Linked DNA regions of Homo sapiens: region 2 is linked to region 1. Evidence: fine-mapped expression QTL. A gene starts in region 1. The other region holds a variant in brackets. All regions are shown on one strand. Distances are from middle to middle. Region 1 holds the start of RNF20 (ring finger protein 20). Region 2 overlaps GRIN3A (glutamate ionotropic receptor NMDA type subunit 3A).

Region 1 (3,031 bases):
GAGGAACCAAAGAAGATGAGAGAATGAGTGTCATTGTCTCATACAATGCTTTTCGGCAGGTGTGTCCCCACTCACATGTTCTCAGGCTCCCACTTCACGGAATGAAATGTGAAGTCCACTTGGGGCCAGTTAATTCTTTCCAAGATAGTCAAGGTGTTCCACTGCCAGGCACCAGGAACACTTGTTTCCCTGGTGTTGACCATCTTACTTCATTTACAGGTAAGCCCTAGCAGGTACAGGGACAAAAGTCTTCACACTAACAGAAATCCAGTGTAGATTAGCTTCTTTTTTTCCCAAGATGCCTAAATTCTATTTTTTAAAAAAGATATAGCGATCATTCTTCCATTTCTAGACCCTTAGCTGACGTCATTAGGTAGTTTATCATAGTTCTGCGAGACATACAGCTTTTCATTAATAGGTTAGATTAATTACCGTCCTATCATTAAAACGCATTTAGTTTAACTGAATGGAAAATAGCAGTTTGTCATAAACTTAAAAAAAAAAATCAATGCTTAATTAGCTTAAAATAGACTAGTACTGAGATCAGAGACTGATTGGCGTTTATCTTTTCCCTGGACAATTTCTTGTTCCCAAAAAAGCACAAGGGCAGTAGTTGTCACTCCTGCTTACGCATTAGAATCTAGTGGATGGAAATGCGGGGTTTGGGGGGAGGAGATGAGGGGAACGCTTTTTTAAAAAAGCTTTTGTCCAGGCCAAGTGATTCTAATGTGTAGACAGGGCAGAATACCGCTCCCTGTGCGGGGGAAAAAATCCCCAACATCTGAAATTCCTCAAATCCCTCAGATTCTCTCCAGAACTCTTCATTTCAGCACGTAGGGGTACCAACGAACAATTTTCTGAGGTGTCTGAGGCTAGTCATGTCCCCGGAGATTGACGGGACCGTCAGCCAATCGGCCGTCTGAACGAGTGATGGCAACCCCAATGACAAGCAACAGAATGAGGAACTTTATCCCCGCAGAAAGACCAGATCGCAGTAGCAAAGGTCAACAAGTCAACAAAAGCCAAGGGCTCTCCGTCAGGCATCAGCGAGGCCCGAGTACTCTTAGAGGTCGTAGCCAGGAGAGGGTCCCGCGCTTGCCCAGCGTTGCTAGGGAGGCGGCGCTTGCTCAAGCTTCTCGTGCCCTCTCCGTACGTCACTTCCGCCCGGCGGGGTCTCATAGTCCTATGGGCTGGGTTGAAGCCACTTCCTTTTTTCTTTCCCTTTTTCCTCTCCGTGGCCCCGCCTCCCGGAAGTTCTGCCTTGTCTCCGCCGCGGGTCAGGGGTGAGAGCTGGAATCTCTGCACGGGCCTTGGTGAGTAACTGCTGCGAGTTCTGTTCCCGCGCGGCGCCAGTTCAAAGAACTTAGGTTAGATCACGCTTAGGGCCCAACAGGACTGTGCCAGGCCTCAGGAGTCTCCACCCTCTCCAGTTTTGGGGCCGTCAGTCTCCTGGGCCTGCAATTATCCACGCTGAGGCTGAGGTCTTTGGCTTTTAGCGAGTTGGATTGCAGCCTTGTTCTGCTTCTGTGTCTTCTCTCTCCAGGCGAGGTCCTACTGAGGTTGTTGCCAGCGATAGTCCTCTCCTGGAGCTTGAATTGGAAGCAGAGTAGTCTTGTTAGTCTCGGTGATGGCTGCGTTGTTTCCTGAAGTAGCCAAAGTGCTTTAGCATCCATTCCGCCTCCTTTGAGCACCCTGGGAGGTAGGCAGGGCAGACGAAAAATATATTCGTTAATATTGTGCAGTTGAGGAAACTGAAGCTCTTGGCGAATTCACTGTTTCAAAGCAACACGGCCTCTAACAGGCAGAACTGAAATTCGCACCCAGGTCTAACTAACGTAGGGTTGCATAAAACAGTGGAGAGAGCGTTTGGAAATAGGGAAAACACTGCAAACGTTAAAGAAGAGCTGGGGTTTCTGAGTGCTTACTTTGTGTTCGGCTTTGTGCCAAATTCTTTCTATAATTATATCATCCATTTTATTTTATAATAAGCATAGGAAGTATATACTGTGGTTATTTATTCCTGGGTTAGGAAACTGAGGCTTAGAGATGATAACTGACTTGTCTAGTACTAATGACTTTAGTAGGCATTTCACAGATCTCTTTCAGCTCTGTGATTCTTTCAACACTGTAGTATTAACTTCTGGCATAATCAAACTGCCCTTTTCTGATTTTGGCATTACAGGAAGAGAGATTCCAGAACTTTATTTTTGGTCTCTTCACCCTTTGCCCATTGTCTCATTTCTTATCACCATTCTTATCACCATCCTATTTAGAAATTTATAGTCATGTAAATTTAGCCTTGACTTTCTTTTTTTTTTTTTTTTGAGACGGAGTCCCGCTCTGTTGCCCAGGCTGGAGTGCTGTGGTGCGATCTCGGCTCACTGCAAGCTCCGCCTCCCGGGTTCAAGTGATTCTCCTGCCTTAGCCTCCCGAGTAGCTGGGACTACCGGCGCCCGCCACCACGCCTGGCTAATTTTTTGTATTTTTAGTAGAGACGGGGTTTCACCGTGTTAGGCAGGATGGTCTCGATCTTCTGACCTCTTGATCCGCCCGCCTCGGCCTCCCAAAGTGCTGGGATTACAGACATGAGCCACCGCGCCCGGCCCGCCTTGACTTTTACTCTACAATTTAATTTTTTTTTTTTTTCCTCAAAGAGAAATATGGAGATGGTTGTGGAATTAATGGATCCAGGTTAAAGGGTTGGCCAGAAAAGTTGCTAGTTTTTACTCTATTGTTTTACTCTATTGTTGCTTTGCTTACATATATTATGTCAGTTTCTGCCTTTTTTTCTATCAGGAAAACGACTGTCTTCTTCTGCCAAAATGTCAGGAATTGGAAATAAAAGAGCAGCTGGAGAACCTGGCACCTCCATGCCTCCTGAGAAGAAGGCAGCTGTTGAAGATTCAGGGACCACAGTGGAAACAATTAAGCTAGGAGGTGTCTCTTCAACGGTATGAGGAAACAGTGCCATGAAAGTGTGCTTGTCTTCTGTCAGTTGCAACTTGAAACTAAAAATTCATGGAAGCTTTCT
Region 2 (2,500 bases), 42 kb after region 1:
ACCACAGGACAAAACTAAATAGAAACACCCTACCAAGCCATTGTGTTTTTGTTCCCATTCATGTAACTGAATTGACTTTTTTCCTGGACTCTTACTTGCCAGGAGAAGGGGACAATCTGGAAGGAGAAGGGGAAAGAGAAGAATAATAAAGTCTTTATGTAAAAGTGGCCATAAACCTTCTTTTCTCCTTTCATTTATGCCCTCTGTAATGTGACTTTGCAGCTTGTACCTATGCTGAATCTGCTTTCCTCCCCGCTTCAGTTAGGAGTGTTCTCACAACTTGTTTTGGGCAACAGAAAGTGGCAGACATATCAGAGTGGCAGTTCCAAGCCTAAACTTTTAAGAAGTCTTGCACATTTCCACTCTCTTGGAACCCTGCTGCTGCAATGTGAACAAGTCCAGAATGGCCTGCTGCATGATGGTAGACCATATGGAGAGAATCCTCAGGCTTCCCAGTTGACTAGCTGAGGCCATCATAGACCAGACAGCCCTTAGCTGCTTTCCCCATCCCCCAAAGTTGGCTACAGACATATGAGCAAACCCAGCCAAATTCAGCCAAGTCTGGCTCAGATCAGCAAACTGCACAGTTGATCCATGAATTAGTAAGCAACTTGCTGTTGTTTAAAACATTAAGTATTGGGATGATTTATCACATAGCAAAGACCAACTTATACATGACCCAAGCCATTGAAACACACACTCCAAACCACCCTGTGGTTCTTTAACATGCCTCATAGTCTAAGTTTTATATAAATGAGCAGAGGGTACCAGAGCTCAGTTTTCTTGTATCCTGGGCTGGGTAAAAGTTCTGTAATGAACCCACTTATAGCTCCATTGGCTTTAGACCTGAGTCAGAGAGGAGATGTAATTTTTCTTCTAGCTTTATAATTCCCTTTAATTTTTTTCTTCAAATCTTTTCCTATTGAATTTGAATAATCTTAAAGTAATCTTGGTTGTGCTGTTATGTAGTTTGTAATTTTTGTGTGTCTTGGGGTGAGAGGAAAGGGAAAACAGGGGTG[A/G]CATGTATTGATTGGGAACCCAGTGAGATGAAAGATAGACCAAAACCTTATGTGAAATCACATGTTGAATAAACCCAGGGCTATATATAAATCATCTCCTGCAATATGTACCTTATTTTCTTTGCATTAAATGAGAAAGGGACAATACCTACTTCCATATCATGGCCCAAAATTTCTCCAAGCATTTCCTCAAACCCATGTTAATAATTCATTCATTTATCTATTTGCTCTTTTATTTGTTCAGTAAATATGGGGCACAGAGGAGGGATGTCAAGTTGTAGCATGCATGAGCATTTGCATAGATATACTTCCAAGAGAAGAGAGGGAGAGCATTCTAATGCCCTACAATGGTTCATAGCAGGGAAAACCTGAGAGTAGAGCATCTACACATTTTCTTCAACTGTCTAGACAGCCACAGTGATAAGGTAAGTAAAGATAGCTGGACTGGTCTTCTCCAGAGCTTTGTATATCTATCTGGTAATATAATATAGAAGAATAAACAAATGCTGGACTTTGTGCCAAATTCTAGTTGCTAGTATCACCAGGCATCTGATATTTGATGTGGGTACCTATGAGTGCAAGGTGACAAATGCTGAGTGTAAGACTCAGTGTCTACTTGGAAAAAATAACCCAAGGCTGGTGTTATACTCCTAGCCTCAGTAACATTTAGGCTTTGCTTTGATTCAAGCCTTCGTCAGTCTTAGAGTGTTACATGACCAGTGAGTGAGCTGTATTTAACACTAAAAATGGGTAAAATAGGCTTCCCTGGAGCAATTATGTAACACTGAGGTTCAATACTCCACTGGACTATTCCAAAGAGACATGACGGCTATGGTACGCCAAACACTCATTGTGTTTGACAGGTTGCTAATGTTGGGTTGTATAGAGGTAGGCACAGGAAATGTGAGCCCAAGCTAAACCATGAACACCTGTTCTCCTTAGATCCTCAAAATAAGGGGTTCAGGAAGGGAATCTGCCAAGAAAACTGGGTAAGTTGCATCAAAAGACACAAATGGTTTTCAATTTATGTGAGAAAGATGTGAATATGAATCATATCACAGTTGGAGATGGGATCATTGGGCTTCCTGTTTCTATTATAGCTGGAAAACAAATATTTTTTCATTGTAAGATGATACATTTGCTGCTATGTCTTCTTGTGTTACTGTTATTAAAAATTTATGTTAAAAATAGAAAAAATAGATGTAACATGTCATGGAACAGCTGTGACTGGACTAGTATACAGCTTGTCACTAACACACTTGCAATATGATGCAGGAATACCACAGACTGAGAGGGGAGGGGAGAGTGCTCATTGACTGGAAAGAGATACTTCAAGAGATAAAGGAAATGATTCCAACAAGCTAGATGGAGACTGCATAGAAGGGGACTGCAGCAGTCCCAGAAAAGATACAAACAAAAAGAATCCTGTTTTCCATCCCTTTTTCTTCTGTTATGATGAGAGGTGTGCCCTCATCTGAGGC

Evidence for each region. PIP is the estimated chance that this variant, and not a neighbour inherited with it, causes the effect. A credible set is the group of variants that fine-mapping cannot tell apart.
Region 2: its variant is the best candidate, but not a certain one, in a credible set for the expression of RNF20 in monocytes (TOPMed, PIP 0.75).

What each region holds. Positions count from the first base shown.
Region 1 is chr9:101,532,602-101,535,632 of GRCh38, forward strand. It overlaps RNF20 (ring finger protein 20), which reads left to right and starts at 1,252. Exons shown (of 20, transcript NM_019592.7): 1 at 1,252-1,313; 2 at 2,797-2,951. The coding sequence starts at 2,823. It also overlaps a transcript of PGAP4 not described here. RefSeq lists an enhancer at 994-1,123.
Region 2 is chr9:101,574,443-101,576,942 of GRCh38, forward strand. All of the region lies in intron 8 of GRIN3A (glutamate ionotropic receptor NMDA type subunit 3A), which reads right to left. Among named protein-coding and RNA genes, the nearest start is that of PPP3R2, 19 kb to the right of the region's middle. The variant A/G (reference allele first, on the strand shown) is at 1,020.